Homo sapiens: one gene and its partners. The protein of the gene in region 3 purifies or fractionates together with the protein of the main gene of each other region. This does not show direct contact. Each region holds a gene or a part of one and is shown on either strand. Other genes may lie near its edges. The genes, in order: ATF6, ZNF430, CLEC3A, LSM14B, LBR, RSPRY1 and ZNF579.

What was found.
Region 1: the proteins of CLEC3A (region 3) and ATF6 purify together in Homo sapiens (affinity purification with mass spectrometry; 2 studies listed by BioGRID and IntAct, with this or other methods). This does not show direct contact.
Region 2: the proteins of CLEC3A (region 3) and ZNF430 purify together in Homo sapiens (affinity purification with mass spectrometry; 2 studies listed by BioGRID and IntAct, with this or other methods). This does not show direct contact.
Region 4: the proteins of CLEC3A (region 3) and LSM14B purify together in Homo sapiens (affinity purification with mass spectrometry; 2 studies listed by BioGRID and IntAct, with this or other methods). This does not show direct contact.
Region 5: the proteins of CLEC3A (region 3) and LBR purify together in Homo sapiens (affinity purification with mass spectrometry; 2 studies listed by BioGRID and IntAct, with this or other methods). This does not show direct contact.
Region 6: the proteins of CLEC3A (region 3) and RSPRY1 purify together in Homo sapiens (co-immunoprecipitation; 3 studies listed by BioGRID and IntAct, with this or other methods). This does not show direct contact.
Region 7: the proteins of CLEC3A (region 3) and ZNF579 purify together in Homo sapiens (affinity purification with mass spectrometry; 2 studies listed by BioGRID and IntAct, with this or other methods). This does not show direct contact.

The regions. Positions count from the first base shown.
Region 1 is NC_000001.11:161,769,083-161,773,054, reverse strand, and holds part of ATF6 (cyclic AMP-dependent transcription factor ATF-6 alpha), read right to left. Parts: exon of another isoform or gene 440-3,972; intron 1-439.
Region 2 is NC_000019.10:21,026,841-21,030,812, reverse strand, and holds part of ZNF430 (zinc finger protein 430), read right to left. Parts: intron 1-3,972. UniProt on the Homo sapiens protein: May be involved in transcriptional regulation.
Region 3 is NC_000016.10:78,020,950-78,025,670, reverse strand, and holds the start of CLEC3A (C-type lectin domain family 3 member A precursor), read right to left. Parts: upstream 3,124-4,721; 5' UTR 3,045-3,123; coding exon 2,930-3,044; intron 1-2,929. UniProt on the Homo sapiens protein: Promotes cell adhesion to laminin-332 and fibronectin.
Region 4 is NC_000020.11:62,128,671-62,132,642, reverse strand, and holds part of LSM14B (protein LSM14 homolog B), read right to left. Parts: intron 3,719-3,972; coding exon of another isoform or gene 3,611-3,718; intron 2,859-3,610; coding exon 2,691-2,858; intron 2,425-2,690; coding exon 2,347-2,424; intron 2,114-2,346; coding exon 1,952-2,113; intron 1,288-1,951; coding exon 1,137-1,287; intron 288-1,136; exon of another isoform or gene 1-287. UniProt on the Homo sapiens protein: mRNA-binding protein essential for female fertility, oocyte meiotic maturation and the assembly of MARDO (mitochondria-associated ribonucleoprotein domain), a membraneless compartment that stores maternal mRNAs in oocytes.
Region 5 is NC_000001.11:225,407,234-225,411,205, reverse strand, and holds part of LBR (delta(14)-sterol reductase LBR), read left to right. Parts: intron 1-789; coding exon 790-915; intron 916-3,972. UniProt on the Homo sapiens protein: Catalyzes the reduction of the C14-unsaturated bond of lanosterol, as part of the metabolic pathway leading to cholesterol biosynthesis.
Region 6 is NC_000016.10:57,210,329-57,213,828, forward strand, and holds part of RSPRY1 (RING finger and SPRY domain-containing protein 1 isoform 1 precursor), read left to right. Parts: intron 1-2,643; coding exon 2,644-2,770; intron 2,771-3,500.
Region 7 is NC_000019.10:55,578,049-55,582,652, forward strand, and holds the start of ZNF579 (zinc finger protein 579), read right to left. Parts: upstream 2,801-4,604; 5' UTR 2,747-2,800; intron 2,095-2,746; exon of another isoform or gene 1,594-2,094; 5' UTR 1,592-1,593; coding exon 1-1,591. UniProt on the Homo sapiens protein: May be involved in transcriptional regulation.

The DNA of each region.
Region 1 (3,972 bases), on a different chromosome or scaffold from region 3:
TGGAGGTTACAGTGAGCCAAGATCGTGCCATTGCACTCTAGCCTGGGCAACAGAGCAAGACTCTGTCTCAAAAAAAAAAAAAAAAAAAAAACAGGAGTTTCAGTGGAGTGGTGGCACCTGACTGGACTGGGTTCAAGAGACAAGGAGAAATAAAAAACTAGAGTCAGTGAACGTGGACATTTTTTAAAAGGAATTCTGCTGTAACATACAGTAGAGAAATGCAGTAACAGCAAGAGGTGAAGTAACATCTGAAGAGAGTTTTGAGTTTGTTGGTTTTGTTTTTTTTTTTTTTAACTCTAGCTAGAGTACTATCTAGATATAGAAACAGTACTTCTAGGAGAAACAACAACATGTTCATTTACTGACAGAGATGATCTAGTAGAGAGGGGAAATGCTGATGCAGGAAACAGGAGGAAGAATAGCTTGAGCAATATTCTTGAACAAAACAGGAAGAATCTAAAGCACATATGGAAGGACTGGCTCTAGCTAGGAGCAAGAAGCCACTCATTCTCACCAACAAAAGAGAAAGCAAACATGTTGATAGGTGGGTAAATGAGGTAGTGGGAGACTGTAGAAGTTCTCTTCTGATTCAAAGGATGGGAGAGATGTTGGAGGTTTGAAGATAGAAGAAACTTTATAAAGCAATCATCAGAATGGGACAGTGAGAGGACCAGGGAAATATGATTGGTCTGGCAACACTTAAATTGAGACCAGTCAGGACAGTTGAAGTGTTTTCTTCAGCTGATTCAGCTATACTAGGACAGGCATGAAGTGGGCAAAACTGAATTTAACTAATAGGTTTATCCAAGAGAAACCTACCAGAAAAGAGACAGACATGAATATGAAAGGTGAAAGGAAGGAAATAGTGACAATGACTGTCCATGGTATTTAAACTGGGTAAGAGGGACGTGATGAACTGAAGAGAATGAGAGACACTGGAAACATGGCAAAATCTCAGAAGGACTGAACAACTATTGAAACTGGAATACTAAAGGAAGTAAGCTGGTAAAACAGGCGAAGGCAGTCAGAGCAGGATGTTTGAAAGTGAGATGTTATTGGTAGTGACAAGACTTAGGCTTATGATCAGGAAAGCAAATGGCTGAGACTGGGTAAAAGGTAAGATCAGTGATAAAGAGGAGGTCCAGAAAATGACAGGTCAGTGTATCTGAAGGATCTTCTCTAAGGATACTGAAATCATCCAAGAATCATGATGGAAGTAATGGTGAAGAAAGTAACAGTAAGCTAGTGGCAAAATGTTTTCAAAAAGCCAAAAAGAAGCCAGGCATGGTGGCATGTGTCTGTAGTCCCAGCTACTCGGGAGGCTGAGGCAGGAGGATCCTTTGACCCCAGGGGTCTGAAGATGCAGTGAGCTGTGATTGCTCCACCGCATACTCCAGCTCCAACCTGGGCAAGAGAACAAGACCCCATCTCTAAAAGAAAAAAAGAAAAGTGAAAGAGAGTGATCCAGGAATCAGGAGAGGTAGAGGATGGGATATTGTGACAAAATGAGATTTCAACTTAGATATTTTTAGGGAGGAGGAAAGGAGAATAGCAGTGAAGGACAATGGAGACACCTATCCCACCAACAGAGGCCCTATGGTGAAAAGGTTTTGAGAATAAAATTAGCAACCGTTCACCGGGGCATTACGGGAAGTTGTGTCATCCAGGAGCACCAGATTTTGATTTAGTGCTAGAAAGCCAAGAGAACCTTCACAGAAGAGACTGAAGACATAAACGAAACCACAGTGGCAGACGAAAGCTTCTGATCTTGATACACATATCTTAAGTACAGCTGACAGAAGAATAAAGAGAAGGAAAAAGGAGAAAGGAGAAAGGAGGAGGAGGAGGGAAGAAAGAAGAAAGCAGAATAAAGCAGCTTTTGCACAAATTCAAGCAAGAGTAAAAGAGAAGAGAGAAGGAGAGAGGAGGGTAAAACATACAGACGGCAAATAAGCATATGAAAAGATGCTCAACATCATATGTCATCAGGAAACTGCAAATTAAAACATACCACTACACACCTATTAGAATGACTAAAATCCAAAGTACTGGCAACACCAAATGTTAGCAAGGATGTGGAGCATCAAAAATGCTCATTCATTGCTAGCGGGAATGCAAAATGGTATAGCCACTTTGGAAGACAGTTTGGCAATTTCTTACAAAACAAACAAAAAACATGTTCTTACCACACAATCCAGCAATTGTGCTCCTTGATATTTACCCAAACAATTGGAAAATGCATGTCCACACAAAAACCTGCACACAAATGTTTTCAGCAGTTTTATATATAATTGCCAAAAGTTGGAAGCAACCAAGATGTGCTTCAATAGGTAAGTGGATAAGCAAACTGTGAATTTATGGCCTAAACTGTGTCCTCCAAAATTCGTATGTTGAAGCCCTAACCCCAAATATTACTATATCGAGAGATACAGTCTTTAGGAGGTAATTAAAGTTAAATGAGGTCATTAAAGTGGGGCACTAATCTGATAGGACTGTGGCCTTATAAGAAGAAGAAGATTCTCTCTCTCAGTGCCATGTGAGGACACAAGAAGAAGGCAGCCATGTGCATGCAAGCCAGGAAGAGAGCCCTAACCAGAACCTGAAGGTGCGGCCATCTTGATCTTGAACTCTAACCTCCAGAACTGGGAGAAAATAAATTTCCATTGTTTAAACCACGCAGTCTGTGGTGTTGTCTTATGGCAGCCTAGGCAGACTAATAGGCTATAGAACATACATACTATTTTTTGTAACACTGTAAATAGTATTTTTGTAATACTATTTAGTGCTAAGAAGAAATGAGCTATCAAGCCATGAAAAGACATGGAGGGACCTTAAGTGCATATTGCTAAGTGAAAGAAGCCAATTCAAAAATGCTACATACTGTATGATTCCAACTATATGACATTCTGCAAAAGGCAAAACCATGGAGACAGTGAAAAGATCAGTGGTTACCTGACCAGAGGTAGGGAAGAGGAAGGAGGAAAAAATAGGTAGAGCATAGGGCTTTTTTAGGGCAGTGAAACTATTCTATATAATACTGTAATTATGGATACATGTCATTATACCTTTGTCAAAACCCATAGAACAGTGGTTCCCAACCCTGTTGGGAACCAGGCCACACAGCAGGAGGTGAGCAGCAGGTGGGTGAGTGAGCGAAGCTTCATCTGTATTTACAGCCACTCCCCATCACTTGCATTACCGCCTGAGCTCCACGACCTGTCAGATCAGCAGCAGCATTAGATTCTCATAGGAGTGTGAACCCTACTGTGAACTGCACATGTGAGGGATCTAGAGTGCACGCTCCTTATGAGAATCTAACGCCTGATGATCTAATCACTGTCTCCCATCACCCCCAGATGAGACCATCTAGTTGCAGGAAAACAAGCTCAGGGCTCCCACTAATTCTGTATTATGTTGAGTTATATAATTATTTCATTATATATTACAGTGTAATAACAATACAAATAAAGTGCACAATAAATGTAATGCACTTGAATCATCCTGAAAACATTTCCTGTGCCTCCCTGTCCCCACCTCCTGTGGAAAAATTGTCTTTCATGAAACCAGTCCCTGGTGCCAAAAGGCTGGGGATCCCTGCCATAGAATGTACAACAGAGTGAACTTTAAATGATGGGCTTAGTTAATAATAATGTATCAATACTGGCTCATCAATTGTAACCAATGTACCACACTAATGCAAGATGTTACCAATAGGAGAAGCTGGGGATGAAGGGGAAGTATGTGGACTCTTTGTACTATCTGCTCAATTATTGTGTAAATCTATAATTATACTAAAAAAGTAGGCTTATTATTTAAAATAATTATGTGAAATTCAAATTTCAGTGTCTATAAAGCTTTATAGAAACACAGCCATGCTCACTTGTTTATGCTGTCTCTGGCTGCTCCTGCACTATCACAGCAGACTTGAGTAGTTGCAACAGTGACCATGTAATCACAAAGCCTAAAATATTT
Region 2 (3,972 bases), on a different chromosome or scaffold from region 3:
AAAACTCGTTTGGTAATTTTGGCCCCACTCTACGTAATGTGGATCTGCAAGTTTGAAAAGGGTTCATGAATGCGTGTTTCAAACAAGTTCCCTGTCAATGCTGATGTTGTTCCCCCTGGGCTCATTAGCATTAGTTAGAGAAGCAGGTACAGCACAGAGTCCCTTACACTTAGCACTCTTGTCACAACACAAATACTTCTGGTACAAATAAAACCAATCTCCATCTTAAATTTTTATATTCTTCGCTGGCTCTTTAAAGTTTACAGAACAAACAGAAGGCGGCAATGTCTGAATAAATCTGCCTTTGGAAAATAACATGTACACATATACAAATGCAATGTTTATTAAGCAGGTACTATGTGCTCAAGGATATGTTACAGAGCACTGTGCTGGGAATAACACATTTTGTGATTTAATCCTAATAACACCCTGGAAGTTGATACTAAGTGTTCAATAATTCCCAGGACTTAGATAAAGGGTTCAGCATTTTTATTTCTCCCTCTGTTTCTCTGTCATTGATTTTGTTTTAAAGGTATAGAATAAAAGTTAAATACAGGCAGATGAGAAGAACATAGAAAAAGTTTAATGTAGTTTAGAGAAATTTTTATTGTGTATACATTTACTTGTTTGTGGCTTGTGGAGCAACTGCTAGATTGGCAGAAACAGAAAACAAGGTGCTAAATGGAATGTTTCTGTAAGCACTGGTTTTAATACAAATTCAAAAAATAAGATCCTAAAATAAATAGTTTATTTCTGTCATTTATCTGTTTTTGGGTTTCAGAAAATTGTGAGCACCAGCTCTAGAAAAGCAGCAGGACTCACCAGACAAAACTCCAGTCTTTTTTTTTTTAGATGGAGTCTCGCTCTGTCACCAGGCTGGAGTGCAGTGGCACAATCTTGGCTCAATGCAACCTCCGCCTCCCGGGTTCAAGCGATTCTCCTGCCCCAGCCTCCTGAGCAGCTGGGATTACAGGCATGTGCCACCACGCCCGGCTAATTTTTGTATTTTTAGTAGAGACGGGGTTTCACCATGTTAGTCAGGCTGGTCTCAAACTCTCGACCTCATGATCTGTCTGCCTCGGCCTCCCAAAGTGTTGGGATTACAGGTGTGAGCCACCACACCCAGCCAAAACTCTGATTTTTATAAATCAGTTTTGTGAGGTAAGGCTCCAGAGCGGGGCCAGACATAAATAAGGCCTCCAAAAAACGTGAATCTGAACAGAATTTGGGCAGGGAAAGGACCCTATGTAGAATTATGTTCTCTCTGCCACCAAGGTATTTCCAGTTCTGTTTTTCCTAAGCTTACATAAGAGAATCTTAAATCCCAGAGCTTATGTAACTTTAATCTATTTTTGCCACTGCCCTGTCAATTTTATAACATATACTAATAAGCAATTTAAACAAATTTATTAAAGTTCTTTAGAATAATTATACTAGAAGATAAATATATATTCTTAGCAAAGTAAAGGAAACACAAATAATAACAAATCTTCACTCCATAAATATCTCCTCAGCTGATGGTATCAGAAGTAACAATATAAAACAGTGGCCCCAATTTTTTTTGGACACATCTATTCATTGTACCAACCATATAATGCTTAATTCACCCATGTATCCAGTTGTTAGTCTAGACATGTTCCTGGATAGTAAGGATCATGACTGCTTCATCTGTTTTTTGAATGGCCATATAAAATGAAAACAATTACTTTATCTGTTTGAGTCACCAGACCTCCTATTGCTTTCATCCAAGTATCAGGAAACTTGAGAAACTCTCATCTGGGTACCAACCAAAGTTATCTCTTGTATAAGGGGAGAAAAAAACACAGAATTGCCAGGCATGGTGGCTCACACCTGTGATCCCAGCATTTTGGGAGGCTGAGGTGGGCGGATCACAAGGTCAGGAGTTCAAGACCAGCCTGTGCAATATGGTGAAACCCTGTCTTTATTAAAAATGCAAAAATTAGCCAGGCATGGTGGCAAGTGCCTGTATTCCCAGCTATTTGGGAGGCTGAGGCAGAAGAGTCACTTGAACCCGGGAGGCGGAGGTTGCAGTGAGCCGAGATCGCGCCACTGCACTCCAGCCTGGGCGATAGAGCAATACTCCGTCTAAAAAAAGAAAAAAAACCCTAAAAAAACCACACACACACAGAATGACTCATTTCTCTTACACCAAGCCAGAAGCAGAATTAACCACTCTTGTCAGCCTGACACAATTCTGCCCTGGACATCCTCAAATGTCTCAAAGACGTCTAGGTGATTGTGAGAGGGTTCTTAGTGACCCTGGGCTGATGGCCCAATGATAATCCAGGCTGGAGAGATTCAGGCTGATTCTAAATAGAAAATGGCCTGGTGGAGCTCCAGAACCTAATCACTTGTCCCAATTTGCTAGCTTTTGGGTAAGGAGAAAGACAAGAATACTCTACTCCAGTATCACATTTTACAGGTAGGTATAGTTGTGGTCATGGCTATGGATACATTATGACTTTGATATCTCACTCTTAAAATGCTGATTCTGTCATCAGATTCTATTTATATCTGGAGCCTCTCACATAACTGTGGCAAATCACTGAACAAGATCTGAAAAGCTTAAAGAACCACACTGTCAAAGGGGGCTTTAAGATGTCTATGTTGACAACTCACAATGGAGAAAATGCCTCCTGTTGGTTTTCTGTACATTCTCAACCTAAAGTCTGGCCGTGTCCTGTAAATCCCAGGAAGAGGCCAGACCTTATGTGCAGATTCTAGGTAGGATCAACCACACTCTGCATTCTTGGGTGTTACAGCAAGTGGAGTACAATCAAAGGAGAGATCCCCTCATAGAGGCTGCTCTAGCTCATTCTACGTGATATGACTACCTAAAAGGAAAAAGCTGAGGCAACATGAATATAAGAGTTTATTTGGGCCAAGCTTGAGAATAGTAACCTGGGAGCAAAGACACATTTTCCAGAGACTGAACAAATAAGAAACTGAATCCCTGAATAGACCAATAACAAGCTCCAAAATTGAATTAGTAAGAAATAGCCTACTAGCCAAAAAAAAGCAAAGAACCAGACAAATTCCTAGCTGAACTCTACCAGATGTACAAAAAAGAGCTAGTACCACTTCTACTAAAAATACTTCAAAATATTGAAAAGAAAGGACTCCTTTTCAACTCATTATATATAAGAATAGCATCATTCTGATATCAAAACCTGGCAGAGATTAAAAAAAAAAGAAAACTTCAAGCCAATATCCTTGATGAACATTGATGAAAATACCATCAACAAAATACTGGGAAACTGAATTCAGAAGAACATCAAAAAGCTAATCCACTATAATCAAGTAGGCTGCATCTCTGGGAGGCAAGTTGGTTCCATATACAATCAATAAATGTTATTCATCACATAAAGAGAACTAATAACAAATACCAAGATTATCTCAATAGATGCTAAAAATACTTTCAATATAATTTAACATTTTTCATGTTTAAAACCCTTAACAAACTAGGCATTGAAGGTATATACTTCAAAACAATGAGACATCAACGACAAACTTACAGCCAACACACTGAATGGACACAAGCTGGAAGCATTCCTCCTTGAAAACTGGCACAAGATAAGGATGCCTTCTCTCAAACATCCTATTCAACATAAAATTGGAAATCCTGGCCAGAGCAATCAGAGAAGAGATGAAAATAAAAGGCATCTGCCGGGCATGGGGGCTCACGCCTGTAATCCCAGCACTTTGGGAGGCTGAGGTGAGCAGATCACGAGGTCAAGAGATCGAGACCATCCTGGCCAACATGGTGAAACCCCGTCTCTCCTAAAAATACAAAACTTAGCTTGGCATGGTGGCATGTGCCTGTAGTCCCAGCTACTCAGGAGGCTGAGGCAGGAGAATCGCTTCAACCTGGGAGGCGGAGGTTGCAGTGAGCCGAGATCACACCACTGCACTCCAGCCTGGCGAGAGCAAGACTCTGTCTCAAAAAAAAAA
Region 3 (4,721 bases):
ATCTTGTGTTTGAAGCTAAATTCTTCGGTTGCTATTTTGAGTCCCCCAGAAGGCTCCCTTTCATTTTACTGTTGCTCTCCAGAGGTAGACACAGTGTAGAAACACAAAAGTCATTCCCAGAAGACATGGCCAGTAAAACCATTATATGATGTTGGACTGTCAAAATACATAGGAATGGGCACTCCCATACACAGAAGATGGGAAGATGGATTGGTGTTATCATTTGGAGGGACAATTAGAAAGTATAATTAACCTGCAATTTTACTTCTGGAAATGTCTCATAACATCCTAACATGGGGAGCAGTATGTGTGCAAAGCAGTTACTTGGGGCTATTGAATCAAAAAGAGATGTATTGGGAGAGATCAGATTAAGTGATGACCCATCCAAACAATGGAATATTATGCAGCTGTTAAAATGAATAAAGTATTGCTTACACTGGTAACTATCCAAGGTTTAATAGATGAAATAAATTTATTTGCCTAGCCAAACATTCTGCATAGCCAATTCTTATTTTGTTAAAAATATGTATTTTAATTGTGCATTTTAAAAACTCTGGGAATAGGCTGGGTATGATGGCTCATGCCTGCAATCCCATCACCTGAGGTCAGGAGTTTGAGACTAGCCTGGCCAACATGGTGAAACCCCATCTATACTAAAAAAGATGTATGTACAAATATCAGCTGGGCATGGTGGCGAGCACCTGTAGTCCCAGCTACTTGAGAGGCTGAGGTACTAGAATTGTTTGAACCTGGTGGGTAGAGGTTGCAGTGAGCCGAGATCACACCACTGCACTCCAGCCTGGGTGGCAGAGTGAGACTCTGTCTCAAAACAAACAATCCTACAAAAAACAAAACACAAAACTTCTGGGAATAGTATTACCTGATAGTTAATAGTGGATAATTTTGTGGTGAGGATTGGGAGAGAGAAGATGGCTTTCACTTTTGATCTCTTTAACACTGGTATTATTATATTTCAAGGTACTTAAACTATTTTAAAAGTATATGGATGGGTGGGGATATAATTGCTTGATCGGTTTAGGTTTATTGCTTCACCTACTGTAGAATCTACTTTCTAGGACCTAATGGCAAAAAGTAGCAAAAACTATACTGGGGGAATGACATTTAAGAGGTGTGTACCTAGTCAGTTTTGTTTTGTTTTGTTTTTAAATAAAAGCATGTGCATGCACATGTGGTTATGACAGAGGCAGTGGGGAAGAAGGGGGTAAAGAAGTGGGAAAGAAGGTAGGGAGAGAGAAGAGAGTGGGAGGAGGAAGGGGAGGGAGGCCCCTGGAAAACCTGGATGTGACCTAAGCTGCGATTACTTCAGAAACACCCACACAGCACCCACATGCACACTCAGTCATGTTCAGACCCTCTTCACACATTCCTACTGGGTGATCGCCACTCTCACGAGGAGTGCCACTCCATCCAGCAGTGAAGAAACGCTGGCTACAGAAATGTACCATGTCACCCAGTATCTTCTCTCTCCCCTCTCCTTTCGATACCATCTTCAGCAATATGTTTCATCTACTCATGAGAAATATTTTAATCTTTCACCGAAAGAAGTACAGTATTTCTTAAGGAAAAAAGATTCCACTTAAGAAACCTTGCACTAGCCGGGCGCGGTGGCTCACGCCTGTAATTCCAGCACTTTGGGAGGCCGAGGCTGACGAATCACGAGGTCAGGAGATCGAGACCATCCTGGCTAACACGGCGAAACCTCGTCTCTACTAAAAATACAAAAAATTAGTCGAGCGTGGTGGCAGGCGCCTGTAGTCCTAGCTACTTGGGAGGCTGAGGCAGGAGAATGGCGTGAACCCAGGAGGTGGAGCTTGTAGTGAGCCAAGATTGTGTCACTGCCCTCCAGCCTGGGCGACAGAGCGAGACTCTGTCTCAGAAAAAAAAAAAAAAAAGAAACCTTGCACCAGACCTAAATTTTGTAAATAAATGTCCCTGAAAAAATGGTACTTTATAATCCTTAAAGCACAAGACCCCTTTTTACCCACCAGCCATCTGTCATGTGAAATAGACTGTAACCTTGCTGAAATTTGTGTATGTGTGTGTTGTTACTAATGGAGTGAAAATAAGGAAATAGTCATAATCTGAAATATCCTGAAATGAAAATGATGCAGAGGATGTGATAAAACATGACCCTCTGTCTTGTTTTTTTCTTTTGCTTAGGTTTCAACGTATTGCAAACACCTCGCTATCATCATTGTTCTTTTCAATTTCTTTAACCTGTTAACCCAATTCAAGTCACTCAAAATTTGAGGTTCCTGGGAGATTCAGTTTTGCATCACAATGCCTTCAAATACTAGATGACTTTGCATATTGACTTTTTTAAGTTGGAGAGATTCAATGTCTCTGACATGAAAAAGTTTAAATATATGGTATAGGTTGTCCTTATGCTGCCAAGGATATGGAAATACAGCTAATGATAACTAATGACAAAACAGGAAGTCACCATTACCAAAATCTCTATCCTCTGCTACACATTGAATAAGATTATAGTTATCTTAAAATATAACTGAATTGAGTTACTCAATATCTACTAGTGAAACAGTGTGCTCAGTTAATACATTCTTCTTGCCCCATATTAATAACACCAGATTTTCAGAAATCCACTTGAGCTTCCTCTGAAGCACATTCTATTTAAGCCCACCTAACAAAAAATATACAACACAGAATTCTTTTACTATCAAATTTTTTCCCTGTTGTTTTTTTTTAAAACCCAGCAGCCTGGTTTCTTTAAAATAAACTATCCCAGAGCATTACAAGTTCACTTAATCCCCTGAAATGCCATATAGGGATGATGGCATGGTGCCATCACCGAAGATAGTCTCCTGGAGGAGTTTGAAAATTAACATTGTCCAGCACCTCCCCACACTGTCTAAGCCTAGAATTTTGCTTGATTGAGAAGCCCCATTACCTCTCACTCGACGTTTGCTGTGCTTCCTGGCTTTTAATCTGGATGTGTGGCTGGTGGTCTGGTCCAGGAGTAAGGTGATCACCAGGATGCAAATTACAAGTCCATTCTTTGCCATGGCTCTGGGGCAAGCCTGCTGAGCCATGTTGCCAGCCCCCTTAGAGCAGCTATGGAAGGAGACTACACAGCTACATCTTGCTCTGGGATGCCTGGGGCTGGCTTATAAAAGTGAGCTTCGGAGGTTGGCTGGAATCCTGCTGACGGAATGTTTGAATGCCTCTGCTGGCCACAGCATAAGGTGGCCTCTTGTTCTTGTGCCTCATGTTAGGCTTTCTATTTATTTAATTTCTGCTGCATTTCCTAGTGATTTGCCTTTTTGGAGTGTGTCAAACTTAACTACAGGTTTAGCCTGCTTTCTTTTTTTAAATTTAAACTCTGAGAAGATTGGGGTCTTTGTGAAAAATTCTTTGATTTGGAACTCTGAAATTCACTAAATGTTCTGGAAAATGGATTCAATTTAGTTTTCAGGGCAAAAAAAAAATTGGAGAAAAAGGAAAGTTACTGCGTGTGTGTGTGTGTGTGGTGCCACAGCACCATTCAAGCCAGTGTGTCTACTCATACTCATGTGTCTGCGCAGCTCAAGTGTAGCTTGGAAGTAGTTTTCTCAGTGGGATTTATGGAGATTGCGGAAATAGATACTCGATGATAAAATATAGGGCTTTCCTCCATTAGGATTTTGTAGACTCATCAAGAATTACTTCCTTGGGGCTGCATGTGGTGGCTCACACCTGTAGTCCCAGTGGGAGGCCGAAGTGGGTGGATCCCTTGAGGTCAGGAGTTCGAGAAGAGCACGGGCAACATGGCGAAACACCATCTCTACAAAAAAATAAAAAAATTCATCAGGCATGGTGGCACACATTTGTAATGCCAGCTACCTGGGAGGTTGAGGTGTGAGAATCACCTGAGCCCCAGGAGTTCGAGATCACTGCCCTCCAGCCCGGGCAAATTACTTTCTTGGGAAAATGTACCTTACAGTGAAAAGAAAATTTTAAAAAGTGAATTATTTCCATTAGAATAAGAATTAATGTAATAGATCAATAGCTATTTTTTCAGGTCCTCACCAATCATTTTTCCTTGAACACATTAAACAACACTTTCAAGTGCATGATGTAATAGCACAGAAACCTAGTGAGAGACTCGCCGGGCGTGGTGGCTCACGCCTGTAATCCCGGCACTTTGGGACGCTGAGGTGTGTGGATCACTTGAGGTCAGGAGTTCGAGACCAGCCTGGCCAACATGAGGAAACCCTGTCTCTACTAAAAAACGCAAAAAGATTAGTTGGGCGTGGTGGCAGGAGTCTGTAGTCCCAGCTACTCTGGAGGCTGAGGCAGGAGAATCGCTTGAACTCACAAGGCAGAAGTTGCAGTGAGCCGGGATTTTGTCACAGCACTCCAGCCTGGGCGACGGAGCCAGACTCCTTCTCAAATAAAAAATAAAAATAAAATTAATGTAATGAGAAACTCAATTATTCCTACCTTTAACCATAGGCTTTAAGGGCAAGTTTTCGGGACCTGATAGGCTTTTGCATCAAAAGCAATGGACTTGCATTACAGGAATAGCCGAGAGGGAGGAATTTAGACCCAGGGAAAGGCCTTCCTGCATTCCACATGCTTATTTGGCTGACCAGGTGCAAATGGAGGGCAGTGGTTGCAGATTTGGAAGGTCTGAAGGACCAAGTTCATTTTGCCTTTGTTTTTTCTTTGAGACAATACAGAAAGAATCAAGGAATGAGTGC
Region 4 (3,972 bases), on a different chromosome or scaffold from region 3:
CACCCATCAGCCGCCCAGGCCAAAAGACTTAGGAGTCATTCTGGACTCTTCTCTTGTCATGTTGGCCAATTCTGTTAGCGCCACCTTCAAGACACATTTAGACTCTACTCCTTCCCTCTGTCACCACCACTGCCTGGTTCCAAGCCACCTGTGCTGCAGCACTGGCCCCTAACTGGCCAGTCAGCAGCCACACTTGCCCACCGTCCAACCACTCTCACCAAGGACGCCGTAAAACATCAGACCGCACCACGCTTCAGCACAAAACCCTCTGATGGCTTCCCGCGGCACTTGGAACAAAAGCCAAAGTCACTGCCATGCCCTACAAAACCCTACAGGAACCCATCCCCCAGACTCGGCCTGTCTGGAAGCACTTCCCGCACTCATCTGCGCAGCCTGCTCTGCCTGTGAGAACTGATCATCCACTTCCCATCGAGTTACAGCCCCATCCCATCGCCCTCACTGCCTGGCCTTCACGACATGCTGTTCTATTTTTCCCCTGGCAGAACATGAACCTGAAGAGGTGGCGCTCTCCAGCCTGCCTTCTGAGGCCCCCTCAACGCCCCGCGGCATGTCTGGCGCTCAATCTGCAGGACAAATGGGCCCAAGTTTCCAAGCCAGGCCCACACTGTAGATGCCACCCACTCCCTAGGGTGCTTCGCGGGACTTCTGACCAGCTGTTAGGTGTGAAAAATAAAACACACCACATGGTCCCTGGCCTCAAACAATGAAGTGAAGGAAAGCCAGTGTGAGCACGTTCTAGCCATACCTCAGGCTGCTAAGCAAGGACCTCAGGCTGCCAGGCCAGCGGGACCAGCAAGCAGAGCACCGTGAGGTATGCTGAATGTGGACACGGGTCTGCCGGGGGGGGCGGTGCAGCCCAGCCTTTGTGGGGACAGGGCAGCAAAGCCAAGAGGAAACAGGCTCGACCTCAGCCAACTCCTCGGGTCGGGATCCCCAAGAGGCTTCCCACACGCAACCTGCTGGGACTCCGGCACCCATCATGCAGAAACGCAAGCAGGACCCTAGAACAGCTACCCTGAGCCTCAGAGTCCAGCTCTGCCCTCAGGTTGAGAGCCCTCAGCCCTGTCCTTTCTAGATTGGAGGACTGTCCTCCCCTCATTCATTCAGCCTCTCACCTGGTCTTGAGTTCAGAAGAGATGTTGTCGAAGAACGACTTGGATTTGTCATAGTAGCAGTTGGGCCCCAGAAGGTCTTCCTCAGCGGGCGCTTCGGCACTCTGGGTCACCACAGCCAGGTCCTTCTCTTCCCCCTTCTCAGCCTTGTCATCTACAAAAAGAAGCAGAACACGTGGAGATGGAGGAGGGGCAGAGCGCACAGCCTTTTAGCAGGGTGGTCCCTCCGGGCTCACTCGGAAGCCACCCTCAAGCTAAGACATCAACTATGCCTTGTGCAAAGCAGAAATCTCTTCTTCTACCTTCTAAGTACAGGTCTCGTTCTGCCGTCTGGGCTGTGCAGTCTGCACCTTATCCCACCCATTTTCACACCTCCCAGCACCTCACTTCATTAATTCCTCACTGCCGGTCACCATCCGCCTGGCATCCCCGGTTCCTCTAGGCATCTCTTCCTTTTCCTTGAGACAGAGTCTTGCTCTATCGCCCGGCTGGAGTGCAGTGGCGCAATCTTGGCTCACTCCCACTGCAACCTCCACCTCCTGGGTTCAAACGATTCTCCTGTCTCAGTCTCCCGAGTAGCTGGGATTACAGGCGCCCACCACCACGCCTGGCTAATTTTTGGATTTTTAGTACAGATGGGGTTTCATTGTGTTGGCCAGGCTGGTGTTGAACTCCTGACCTCAGGTGATCCACCCACCTCAGCCTCCCAAAGTGCTGAGATTACAGGCGTGAACCACCACACCCGGCCAGGCATCTCCTCCTAACACTCTCTAGGGGTACTCCTGTGCAGAGAATAATTTTCATATAATGAGCCAAACCTTTAAAATTCAGTTTCTTCTTAAATTCTTTGTCAAGCTCCTCTCGGTTGAACTGGGCATTTGCACTCTCGAAATCAAAGTCACCCTCAAATTTGATTGTGTTTTCCTTAACGTTAGTTGGACGGTTTTGCCCTCTGGAGCGATTCCTTGTTCGCCTGTTTCCTGTGAGGACAAAGGACAGCCCTGGCTGAAGTAGGTCACCAACCCAGTGATCTCAAACACCTCACAAGGAATTTCCAGGCACACCCCCAAGGCCACAGAAGGAACAGAGCACACAAGCAGCGACTTCACACCAGCACCCCTGAAACCGTCAACCAGAGAAGCAGGCAGGAGGGCAAGCAGAGCTCAGCCTGATCACTCGTGGTCCCCAGAAATCAAGTGGCAACAGGTGTTACCTGATCGCCTCCTCTGAGGTCTTCTGTTCTCGTCATTCACCTGCCCTTGAGCTTGCACAGCTGCCGGCTGGACTACATCTACGGCGCAAAAGGGAAGAGTAAGGCAAAGCTCCTATAGCAGCCGGAAGCCAGAACCCAGCTGTGGAAGCAGGCCCCACCACCATGGGGCACGCGGCCAGGGCGGCACCGCAGGAGGCTGCTGCACAGGCCTGCCCTGCAAAAGCACATGGGGCTTAGGATGGGGGAGTAGTATTTTTTTAATTAAAAAAAAAAAAATAGCCCAGGAAGTAGTGTGCCACTTTTAGAACATCAAGCAAACTCCAGGAAATGATGTGTTCAAGTACCGCTGGCCGTCTTGCTGCTCGGCTGGGCCTGACGACCGTTGAGCTGCGTCCCTGTGGTGCCCTTGCCAGGTAACAGCTTTTTAGCATTCAGGTTGTCAGCAGAACCAGTCTGCACAGCCTGCTCCACCATGGGGCTCTTGCCGACTGGGATGGATGGAAAACCAGCTCCTGAATTGAGGAGGGGAGGAGGGTTTAAAAACAGAGAGAAAAGAAGCAAGCCTTATATCTCCAGGCATTTCTCTTCTGCTGGCATGTCAGGAAGGAAAGGAGGGCAACTGCCTAGATGTTCTATCAAATCCAGGCAAAGCACCCCCAGACTGGGCCATTCCCTCTGAGGCTAGCCCAGGCAGCAAAAGAAGGCCAAGAGTCACTGGGCAGCACCAAGGCCAGTTCATCTTTGGACTCCCCACTCCCAAAGCCCTGAGCTTCCCAAGTTAGGGAACCTCAAGGACAGGAAAAACACCGTGCCTACAAACAGGCACCTCCCCAGAAGTGTGGAAACAGCTTTCTTAAAACCACACAAGCTCCAATCCCAAAGGAGCTCAGCAGCCCCAAGATCCTGATGAATTCAGGATCTGAGAATTTGTTTCATTCTGGTCCACACTGGAGAAGAACCAGCCCAGCCTGGGATTTTCTAGAAAATGCAGTGAACAAATTCTGAAGTTAAATTCTACAACACTGTCATTTCCACTTAAGGCACAATAAAACTAAAAATGATGAAGCAGGAGCTGACTTCCGAGACGTAGCAGCCTACACTTCTCTCAAGGGCAAAGGCTCATCATGAAGACACAAAGGGCTCCTAGGTAGCCTTTGGCAAGGGGCTATGCCTATGAAACTGCAGTCCGAGGCCCACGCACAGGGGATGAACCCTCAGAAACCAGGCCCTCTGAATCAGGAGGAAAATGGGAAGCACCACCCACCTCTCTCCATCTCCTCCCTTTCCAAGGTTCCAGGACCTGTAGGGACTCTAAACAGGACAATGTGGGACTGGGTGTAAGTGAACAGAGATCTGAAACAGAAAAGGCACCCTAACCACAGGGTAATTATTATTAGACGAACAGCCCAATACACATGAAGACTGGGCATCTCATCTTACTGCTTTTACGGAATAGAAATGAAAAAAAAAATTGACTGTAGAAAAATTCCTTGTAACCAGATCAAGAGAAGCTCTCAAAGGGCAGGTTGGAACGACTCTGCATAGAGGTCTGGAAAGTGTCCTCTGGCGGGAATGCACCCGGGCCACTTTCTCACTGATTGTCTCACTCAGCATGTCCGGGAGACA
Region 5 (3,972 bases), on a different chromosome or scaffold from region 3:
TATCAAAATACTTTCTTGTAAGTATTTTCCAGAGGTTTAAGATGCCCTGTTACAGGTTATGACAAATTAAATAACTTTTCTTTGCTTTATTTTTATTATATCAGTTTATATTTATGTAGGAAAGTGATAGTGTGGATGAATTAATGTAAGAAAAAATGCATTTTCCTCCTTTTTAAATTTTACCTAGTTTTAGGCTTGGAGTTGCAGATAGAGAGCAAAGAGTTCCCTTCCACCCTTCATTCTGTTTCTCACAACATTAACCTTGGAGGAAACCGTAGTGTAGTGATGAAGAACAGCAGATTAACATAGTGACAGCATTGGTTACCAAGTCCACAGGCCTCAGTCGAGTTCACCAGTTTTTCCGCTGTTGTCCTTTTTCTGTTCCAGGAACCTCGACAGGACTCCACAATACATTTAGTTGTTATTCCTTCTTAGTCTTCTCTAGTCTAATAGTTGTTTAGGCTTTCCTTGTCTCTCATGACCTTGATACTTTTTGGAAGGTACTGGTTGGTTATTTTGTAAGTGTCCCTCAGTTTGGGTCATTCCAGTGTTCTCTTTGATTGCGGTAAAGTTACCCACTGTGACAGGAACACAGAAATGATAGCTGTGTCCTTCTCAGTGCATTGGGTCCAGGGGCCCATGGTGCTGAGATGTCTTATTCCTGGTGGCGGGTAGGAGTTACGGTGGCGTCTGCCAGGTGTCTCAGCTGTGAAGCTCACTCATGCCTTTGTAGTGCTAAGGTCTCTGGGGAGGTGCTTTGAGGCTATATACTTTCCCCTTTTGTTTCAGGTGGTTATTAACTTGGTGATGCTTTTGGCTGAAATGAAAATACAGGACCGCGCTGTTCCATCCTTGGCCATGATTTTAGTTAATAGTTTCCAGCTTCTCTATGTGGTGGATGCTCTCTGGAATGAGGTAATTAATTTTAAGAGCCGAGGCCTTGGAGTCAGATGGCTTTGAGTGGGTGAGTGACCTGTCAGAGCCTCGGCTTCTTGCACACAAAGTGAGGGGAGCATGGCCTGCCTCCAAGGCTGCTTGAGAGGAGGACGAGGCCATCCATGTGAAGCTGACGAGGGAGCACTGACAGGTGGGAAGTTTCTAGGCATTTGGGAGTGCTTCAGTGTTTATCAGCTGTTCTTGTGTTTAAAAGTAATATTCTAAATATTTAAGATTGGTGGATCTTGGTTTTGTTTTTGTGGGTGGTGGTAATTATGGTATCACATGAAAATGGATGGATTATTACTAAATTAGAATGGTGTTTCTTGGACTGTCAAGAGTCACCTAGTTTTTAAATAATGGGGGAGATGTTTTATTGTTAATGTTTTAAAATACAAAGACTAGCTCTAATTAGATGAATGTAAAATCAGAAATCAAGATGCATTGAGGAAACCAGTTGAAATAAGGCTAAGTTTCCATCTTGTGTCTTTTTTCATACATTGATTAGTCTTTCTACTAGTTGAAGACTGGTAAATGTTTTGTTTGTTTTCTCTGTCTCAGCCAGCATATTCCTTTTAAAAATTTTGTCTTCCTCAGGCTTATTTTACAAGTATTTTATCGTATTTACTGTTATCTTTGTAATTATCTCCAAATTCCAACTCTAGTTTTCTTTCCATATTAAAAACAAATCTGGCAGCTGTACATCATAATGTTCCAAAACAAGTTTTAGTGACAGTCTGTTGAGACAATCTGCTGACATTTTGAGAGAAGACCTTTTCTCTTTGAGCCTGGAACATTAAAAAAAATTATATTATTTGGTCATCAATACTATGTATCTCCCCCACCCCTGCTGGCTGGTCTTTAATTTTGGCCTTCTATGCAAAATTGCAGAGAACATTTAGTCAGAACAACTTCGCAAGTTTGATATTGGTGTTTCGATGATCTCCTTGTTATTTAGGAAGATTAGGGCCACTTTGAGGTAAACCTCAATTACAAGCGGTGGGATTAGTGCTATCCGCTAATTACGGGTTCCTGTTGCGCTCCTACCACTTCACAGACCCTGGCTCAGAGCTTGGGAAGCTGTGAAGGTGGTGATAACACTTCAAATTGACTTTAAAAATTCCACGTCGACCCAAAATTAAACATGTTTTTGAAATTAAAAAACAACTGTTTTGTAAATGCACTTACTGTTACCAGTGTAGCTTTGTTTGCTGTTATAGAATGAATCGCCAAAAGAGCATATAGGTTACAGTTTGCAAATCAAATGATATTTCACAGTTGTGCTCACCTCAGAGGCTTCTTTAAACCTTCCTTTCTAGTAGCTTTCCACTGATCAGTGATTATTTCTTCTGGTTTCTTCTATTACTAGCTTTCTGCCATGTTGTGGTTGTCACTTTTTAATTGGCTTAGAAGTTGATATTTTCTATAGATTTAGCCAAACATTGACTTGTGTTAAAAGAAAATTTTTTGCATCTTAAGGCAAAACGCTTAATGCAATATTAACATAGCCCCAGGGGTAGAGAACTAGAGTTAGGAAATTGTTTTCTGTCTGTTCTCAGTATCTCAGCCAGATGATAATAAGCTTCTTGAGGAAAGATTGTATTTTATGATTTCTTCAGCATTCTGGCATGCCACTGGGCAATTAGCAGATGCTTAATAACTTCTGTCAGGTCACTTGATAGAAATCCCTCTGTATTCAAGAATGTGCTATACCTTAAGAAAACTGAGACTACCTGTTTAAATATGCATGACCCTTCCTCTGAGCCGTCCTGTGAAAGCCTTGGGGCTCAGGAGCTGGTGGGGCTAAGGTCCTCCCCCTACCCGGCATTGGGTGCTTACCCTTTGCCCTCTCACTGCCACTCACCACACCTGCTTTTATCTGCTCCCACCAATTTGTCACCTTTATCCTCTTTTGGACCAGGAATCAGATCACAGGCCTTGAGAGAGAAGAATAAGACACTCTTGGGGACAGAAAGTTAAAACACCGTGTGTCCTCACTTATATGTGGGCGCTAAAAAAGTTGATGTCATAGAAGTATAAAGTAGAACAGAGGATATGGGAAGGTGGGAAGGGTAGGGGGAAGGGAAGGATAGGGAGAGGTTTGTTAAAGGATACAAAATTACCACTCGATAGGAGGAGTAAGTTCTAAGTTCTAGTATTCTATACCACTGTAGGATGACTATAGTTAACAGTGATACATAGTTTCAAATAGCTAGAAGGATATTGAATATTCCTAACACAAAGAAAGAATGTGTTTGAGATGATGGATATGCTAATTACCTTGATTGGATTACTATATATTACATGTATTGCAACATCACTGTGTACCCCATAAATATGTACGATTATTACATGTCAATTTTTTTTTTTAAAGAGAATAAAGTACTCTGGTTAACTAAAGAGTATAAGCCTAAGGAGCTAGATTTTGTGAGATTGGTTTTTCTGTTTCATGTGACATCTGTTTTTCTGTTCCATGGCCTATTTGCTTTCTTTTCTGGAAAAAAATGCTATTTAGAGGTACCACTCTTTTTCTTTAACCTAGAACTTTGATTCTCCAACAGAGCTTATACTGGCTAATATTTCTACATCAGTGGTCTGTACTGAGGTTCTGGGTAGTTTAGAGATTCCCTTAGGCCAGACCTTCAGAGTGTTGACCTTGGTGGTGGTTCCGTATTCTAGAGTCTGGCCTGCCCGTATCCTGGGCCAGAGGCGATCTGGCTCATGCTAACCAAATCACCAGGGAGTAATGCACTTTTATTAATTTACATGAGAAGCGAAGCTGTCAGTTCACCATGTTGCCAGGCAGCTTAATTTCTTCTGTGGAAAATGCACATGAAATGCCAGATTATGAACAGAAATTAGATTGGTCCATGTGGAATTGAAACAAAAAGAGTTGGTGATCTTATTCCTTCAGCAAGCATATTTTGAACACTTCTCTCCATGGCGGGCACTGTGCTAGGTACTGGGGTGGCAAAGGTGAAAACACACAGCCTCTGTCTTTTAGAGGCTTTTAGTGTAGTGAAGAGTGACTAGACA
Region 6 (3,500 bases), about 21 Mb from region 3:
CTTGGCTTCTCAAAGTGTTGGGATTATACGTGTAAGCCACTGTGCCCAGCCTAGGTTAAAATTTTTTAAATGTTAAAAATAGAAGCATTTAAGGCTGGGCGCGGTGGTTCACGCCTGTAATCCTAGCACTTTGGGAGGCTGAGGTGGGTGGATCACCTGAGGTCAGGAGTTCGAGACCAGCCTGAACAGCATGGTGAAACCCCGTCTCTACTAAAATACCCCGTCTCTACTAAAAATCAGCCGGGAGTGGTGGCAGGCACCTGTAATCCCAGTACTCAGGAGGCTGAGGCACGAGAATTGTTTGAACCTGGGAGGCAATGGTTGCAGTGAGCTGAGATTGTGCTACTGCACTCCAGCCTGGGCGACAAAGCGAAACTCTGTCTCAAAAAAAAAAAAAGAAGCATTTAGGTTGGGCGCAGTGGCTCACACTTGTAATCTCAACACTTTGGGAGGCCAAAGCAGGCAGATTGTTTGAGTCCAGGAGTTCAAGACCAGCCTGGCAACATGGTGAAACCCTGTTTCTACAAAAAAATCCAAAAGTTAACAGGGTAACGTGGTGCATGCCTATAGTCCCAGCTGCTCAGGAGGCTGAGGTGGGAGGATCACTTGCAATCTGGAGGTCGAGATTGCAGTGAGACAAGATGGCGTTATTGCACTCCAGCCTGGTTAAAAAAAGAAGTATTTGTATCTCAGGTGGCGATCTTTATTCAGAAGCTAGAAGAGAATGTTGAGTTGCTTCGCTGATTTTCTTATCTTTCTCTAAGCAATTTCCTCATAACAAAAGTTTTAAGAATGTTTTTTATTAAGAGGAAAAACTGGGCTGAATGTACTGGCTCATGCCTGTGATCCCTGCACTTTGGGAGACCAAGGCAGGAGGATCAGTTAAGCTCAGGAGTTTGATACCAGCCTGAACAACATAGTGAGACCTTGTCTCTGTTAAAAAAAAAAAAAAAAAAGAAAGCCAGGCACGGTGGCTCATGCCTGTAATCCCAACACTTTGGGAGGCCAAGGCAGACAGATCACTTGAGGTCAGGAGTTCAAGACCAGCCTGGCCAACATGGTGAAACCTCATCTCTACTAAAAATACAAAAATTAGCCAGCACGATGGCGTGCACCTGTAATCCCAGCTACTTAGGAGGCTGAGGCAGGAGAATCACTTGAACTCGGAAGGTGGAGGCTGCAGTGAGCTGAGATTGCACCACTGCACTTCAGCCTGGGCGACAGAGTGAGACTCCATCTCAACAACAACAACAAAAAAAAGTTAAAACTGAAAGCACTTTTGAATCTTACTCAAATGTATTAATGATTAGTGTAACATTGGTTATCCTTTACATAGAACAAAAGCATCGAACTTTCATTGCTTTCCCATGTGTTTTACAGAGTCCTTTTTTTTTTTCTTTTTTTCTTCTTTTGGATTCTGGCATCTTTCATTTTTAAGATGGAGTCTTGCTATGTTGCCCAGACTGGTCTCAAACTCCTGGGCTCAAGCATCCTCCCACCTTGGCCTCCCAAAGTGCTGGGATTACAGGCATGAGCCACTGTGCCCAGCCTCAATTCTGGCATTTTCATTCATCTGTTTAAGCCCAGTGCAGAAAAACATTGTGGACGGAAGGGGAAAGTCTTTAGCGTAGTCACCAATGAATTGACCTTTGCCTAGGCTTATAAGAGCTGCCTGTTTCAATTTGCCTTCAACTCTGTTGGGGCAGGGTGCAGTGGTTCATGCCTATAATCCCAAAACTTTTGGGGGCTGAAGCAGGAGGATCACTTAAGGCCAGGAGTTCAAGACCAGCCTGGGCAACATAATGAGATTCCCATCTCTACAGAAAATTAAAATTATCTGGGCACTGTGACATGTGCCGGTAGTCCCAGCTACGAGGGAGGCTGAAGTGGGAGGATCACTTGAGCCCAGGAGGTAAAGGCTACAGTGAGCCATGATCACTTCACTGCACAGCAGCCTGGGAAACAGAGCAAGAGCAAAAAGAAAAGAAGAAAACTCTGCTGGGATTTGTTTTTGCTTAGTAAAACTTTTTTTAAAGTAACTTTTTACTTCAACATCACCAGCCTTTAATGTTTTCATAATGGCATCTGAGTGGGTTTAATCTGTTTAGTGATTCAAGAATATGTAGCATATATTTGATACAACTTAAGCATTCTGAATGAAGTGGAATCTAGTAAGTCATGTAAGGAGACTTTCAGGTTGATCAGATATTTCCCATCAATGATATCATTAGGGTACATTGCATAATTTTTATATGGTCATTCTGAGTTTATTTAACACCTGGTTATAGCTCCCCCCACCCCCCTGAGACGGAGCCTTGCTCTGTCGTCCAGGCTGGAGTGCAGTGGCACGATCTCGGCTCACTGCAACCTCTACCTCCCAGGTTCAAGTGATTCTCCTGCCTAAGCCTCCTGAGTAGCTGGGATTACAGGCGCGCACCACCACACCTGGCTAATTTTTGTATTCTTAGTAGAGATGGGGTTTCACCATGTTGGCCAGGCTGGTGTCGAACTCTTGACCTTGTGGTCCGCCCGCCTCGGCCTCCCAAAGTGCTGGTTATAGCTTTTGTCTCAAAAAAAAAATGAGCCTGGGAAAACAACCTGTGTAGTATATGGGTCAAACCCACTTGTACTTTTTTGTTTTAGGATGCACTCCAGAAATTGACTGAAATTCTCAATTTAAATGGAGAAGTAGCTTGCCAGGACTCAAGCCATCCTGCCAAACACAGGAACACATCTGCAGTCCTAGGCTGCTTGGCCGAGAAACTAGCAGGTAACTTTGGGACACTCCACAGTGGAAGATCTTAAGTTGTTTGACATTAAAGGGAAATTTGTACTGTATGTCTTTGATCAAACTGCTATACCAGAAAGAAATCTCTTAAAAATGATATTGAGAGACATAGACTAACTGGAAGAAAATTACTGAAAGGCTACAGAGGTGAATGCAATTTAATTTAGCTTTGTGGATTTTCAGGGGAAATTTTAAAAGAAAAAAGTTGTGCTTATTTGCTTTAAGAATAAGGAGCGAGGAAAAGAAAAAAGGGAGAAAAGCTAAATTCAGCATAACAAAGATATGTATGTGTGTATACAATATATAATTTGCATATATACACACTTTATAAAGTTTAGCTCGATTATGAAGACATACAAGGTAGAGGGAGAGGAAAAGGAACTTCTGGTTGGAGCAGTTCCTGAGAAGCAGGTATTTAATTTGTTTATGAATGTTACCCATTTTAAGAAAGTTAACAGCAAAGTACAGGGGCATAGCTCAGCTACTTACATCACGTAATGTGGAAGAAACAATGGATTAGAAATCAGAACATGTGGCTACTGGTTTGGACTCTCCCATGTGCTTGCCAAGTGCCCTGGAGTTAGTTGCTTAATTCTGTGGGCTCACTTGCTTAACTGTGAAATGGAGCTAGTACTATTTTCTACCTCAGAGCAGGAGGCTTTAATAAGATAATGTGCATGAAAGAGTTCTACCAAAACAATTTGATTGTTAC
Region 7 (4,604 bases), on a different chromosome or scaffold from region 3:
AGGCGCTGAGGAAGACAGGGGGAGCCGGCGGGGACTGGGGTGGGGTCCCCGGAGAGGGCGGCTCTTCCTTAATGTTTGCGAGGGGCAGCGGGAGCCCTTCTTCCTCCTGCTCGGCCTTCAGGGGCGGCGGGGGCGGTGGCGGCGACGTCGGGGCCTGGGCCTGCAGTGCCTGCAGCGCGGCGGCCCTCTCCAGCTCTGCGCGGTGGCAGCGCTGGTGGCGCAGGAGGCTGTAGGCGCGCGAGAAGCGGCGCGGGCAGCGGGGGCACGGGTGCGGGGCTGGGCCCCCCGCGTGCACCTGTGCGTGGCGCGCCAGGTCGGCCAGGCGCTTGAACTCCCGCTGGCAGCGCACGCACTGGAAGGGGCGCGCTCCCGAGTGGGTCACCCCGTGCTGCCGCAGGTGCGCCCGGCGCCTGAAACCTTTGCCGCACTCTGGGCACCAGAAGCGGGGCTCCCCGGCGGGGGGCCGAGCCGGGGCGGCGTCGCCTCCGTTCTGCCCTTCTCCCCCTTCCGAGGCACCCCCGCACTCCGCCCCCTCGCCCCCCTCCGGCCCCTTGGCTGAGTTCCGTGCACCCGAGGCCTTGTCGTCCTTCTTGCCCGCCGCGGGCAGCGGGGCCAGCAGGCTGAGGGGGCCGTGGACGCGGCGGTGCTGGCGGAGGTAGGAGGCGAGGCGGAAGGCCAGGCCGCAGTCTGGGCACACGAAAGGGCGGTCGGTGGAGTGGACCAGCCGGTGGCGCGACAGGGACCAGGGCCTGGCGAAGGCCTTGAGGCAGATGGAGCACTGGTGTCGCTTGGGGCGTGGCGGGGGCCCCCCTTCCCCTTCCTGTTCGCCCTCGGGGCGCAGACACGGGTGCGCCTTGAGCTCGCCCTTGGTGGCGAAGGCTTCGCGGCAGCGCAGACACAGCAGCGTCCAGTCTGCCTGGAGCAGGACCTGTTTCTCCTCCTGCCGCCCGGCCGCCAGCGCCAGCTCGGCCCTCAGCTCTGCTGCCCCGGCCTCGGCCTCCTCCGACTCCGACTCCCGGGGCTCCGCGGCGCTGGTGGGCGCAGCCAGCGTGGAAGGCTCCCCCGCAGGCCACGTCTCAGGCCACGCTGCGACCGCCTCCTCCTCCGTGGCCCCTGCTGCAGCGGTGGTGGGCGGCTCCGAGCCCTCGTCCTGCGGGCCCCAGCTGGGTTCGGCCGTCTCCTTGGCCACCCTCTCGATGGCCAGCTCGACCTCGCCGCCCGCGTGCTCCTGAGCCAGGTGGCGCCTGAGCTGGGCCGGTTCTGGGAAGGTGCGGGGGCAGGCGGCGCAGCGCAGCGGGGGCTGGGGCCCGTGGCCGCGCAGGTGGCGGGAAAGGTGGGCCGGCCGGCGGAAGGCCTTGGGGCACAGCGGGCAGGCGTGGGGCCGGAGCCCCGAGTGGCTCAGCCGGTGCCGGGAGAGGTAGTAGGGGAAACGGAAGAGGCGGCCGCAGGTGGGGCAGGGCAGGGGCGCCCTAGGGGCTCCAGCGCCCCCCCTGCCACGGCCACGGCCCCGACCACGGCCTCGGCCACGGCCCCGGCCTCGGCCACGGTGAGGTGGGCTGCCCTGGGCGGGTGGAGGAGGCTGCGGATCCATGCCTGTGGGGAGAGAGGGGAGAGATGGGAAGCGGGGCAGAGATAAAAAGAGGTGCGTGGGGTGTGGCAGAAAGAGAAGCAGAGACAGTCAGAGATGGAGAGGCAGAGAGGGTCAGGTATTTAGCCAGGAGAGAGATATGAGACAGAGACAAAGATGAGAGACACCGAGGGGAGGCCAGAGATGGAGAGACAGGAGGAGAGAGATCAGAGACAGAGCGACAGAGCAGGGAATAGAGACAGGAGAAGGCAGAGATGGGAGACACAGAGAAGTGGGGATGGACAGACAGAGACCAGGAGTCGCAGAAAGACAGGATGGTGAAAGGCAGAGCAGAGAAGAGACAGAGGAGAGTGAGGAACACCCAGCAGAGAGACAGAGACACAGAGAAGAGGAAACAAAGAGACTTGGAGAACCAGAGGCAGAGATAGTGCAAGAGCAGAGATCAGAAGAGCAGTGGCGGGTTGGGGGCCGGAGAGACAGGGAGACAGAGACACAGAGGGAGTGAACTGGGCAGAGGCACGGAGGGGGACAAAGTCAGCGAACCGCTTCTGCTCCAGGTCCCCCGGCCAGGCTGAACGTTTTGGGAGGGGCTGGGACACAGCCCATGGGGCCTGAGTGGAGGGGGTGGGATTTGAAGCCGGTAGGCCCCGGAAATAGAGTGTGTTCTCAGATGCCAGGGGCTGGGAGAGGTCGGGGAGTAGGAGGGTTCAGACTTCTGGTCTGAGTTGGGAGGGGGCTAGGGGCCCAGACTCTTGGGACTGATGGGGATGGGAGCTGGGGATTGAGACTCCTGGGTCCAGGTCATGACGGATTGGGGAATCTGGACTCTGGTATGGAGGAGGTGTGGATTCCTGGGTCCCGGTGGAGGAGGGGCTGGGGAGGGGGCTGGGCTCCCAGGACAAGGGGGAGGCGGGGGCTGGGGACCCAGCTGCCGGGAATCCCCAGGGAGGAGGCGACTGAGGGCCGGACCCCTGGACTCGGGAGGGAGGCTGGTGGGGGTCGGGGGTCCCAGGTCCTAGAGGGGGGCCGATCTCCTCCGGGCCAAGCCTGCAGCTCCCCGAAGGCATGATCAGCAGAATTGGGGCCGGGTCGAGGCCTTGAGGATTTCTCAGCCCTGGGCCTGGGGCTTGGTCCTGGTCGCTGGGGCTGGGTTCTTACCTCGCCTCCTTGGCTCCTTTCTTCCTTCCCCACGGCCGGCCAAACGCGGACGGTGGTGGCGGGGAGGGAGGGGGGCCTGAGCGTGGTGGGGGGTGGAGGAGGAGGCTGGGCTCGGTGTCACTGCCTAAGCCTTCCCCCCGGAAACCTGGCCTTTCCTCGGAGCCTGAAAGAGGAAAGACTGGCTGGGAAGCCGGAAGCGGGAGGACGGGGGACCTGGAGAGGGGAGGGAAGGCAGCTTGCACTACAGGGTCCTGTGAGGGGAGGGGGCTGGGGGCCTGTCCCCCGGGCTCCCAGAGGGCGGAGGGTGCTGAGGGCCTGGAACACTGGGTCCAGCTACTCCCGGCTCCCCAACATGCACACACACATATTCATTCATTCCTTCAACAAATACACATTTATCAGGTCCTGTCTGTGCCAGGCACTGTGTCAGGCCAGGGGAGTGGCCGGGGGAGGAAGATGAATGAATCAGTGACAGAGGCTTCAGGAAGTACTGGCACTCTGGATCAGAACCTGGCTCCAGCCTTCCCTTGGCTGTCTGGGTGAAGGATTCTCCCACTTCGAGCCTCGGTTTCCCCCTTTGTGAAAGCCCCTGCATATACTCATTCAACCCTAAGCGACCAATATTTACTGAATATCTACTACGGGCCAGCCTGCATATATTTGTCTACATATACGCATATTCACTGGGACCTTAGCAGCCAATGTTTACTGAGCACCTACTATGGGCTGGTGCTGTCCTTGGTGCTGGAGTCACAGTGGCAAAAACCGGAGCTCACTGTCTGATGGGGAAGGCAGATAGATACGGATCAATCACGCTGGAGTGCATGTGGGGGAACGTGTGCTCCGAGGCAGGGAACTGCTATGGGAATGCAGAGAACAGAAGGCACTGAGCTGAGCTCACACTGGGAGGAGGTGATTCCTGAGGTCTTCCTGGAGGCAGCAATGTTTCAGCTGAAATTGGCAGAATGAAACCAACCTGGCGACATCTCAGAAACCTATTCTGGAGCAGAAAAGGCATTTTGCAGGAGTATACCCACAGCTTGACGCTGTTTGTTTAAGGTTACATTCCTGCCAAACAGTGCTAATGAGAGTGCGAGCAAACAGGTCCTTTCATACACGGCTGGGGCAAGTAGAACCTGGAACATTCTTACCGAGCCAGCAATTCCAGGAATTTATTCTTCAGAGGCATCTACTCGGAACTGCACAAAATAATGTCTGCACCAGGTTAATCATTGCAGTACTGCACATCACTGCAAACAGCTGAAACCAATCTAAACACCCATCTGTAGGAGAGCTGAGTAATAAATCATGACTGATCCACCCAGTGGAATACTAGGTGTCCATAGAAAAGAACAAAGAAGCTCACCGTGTGCATATATGGTAAGTCTCCAAGTGATAACCTGTAGAAGAGAAAAATGGAAGGTCAAGTACAGCCTGCAGCCTGTTCTGGGTTTGTGTGTGTTCTGGGATTGTGTCCAGATGAACTGGAACAAGAGAGAAGAAACTGAAACTGGCAACATAGTCTAACTTCCAGGACAGAAATTTACTACACTCTATCCTTGTTTTTTTGTTTGTTTGTTTTTTTTTGTTTTGTTTTGTTTTCTTTTGAGATGAGATCTCCTTCTGTTGCCCAGGCTGGCTGGAGGAAGTGCAGTGGTGTGATCTCGGCTCACTGCAGCCTCGACCTCCCGGGCTCAAGCAATCCTCCCACCTCAGCCTCCTGAGTAGGTGGGGCTACAGGAGTGTGCCACCATGTCTGGCTAATTTTTGTATGTTTTGTAGAGATGGGGTCTCCCTATGTTGCCCAGGCTGGGCTTGAACTCCTGGGCTCAAGCAATCCACCTGCCTCGGCCTCCCA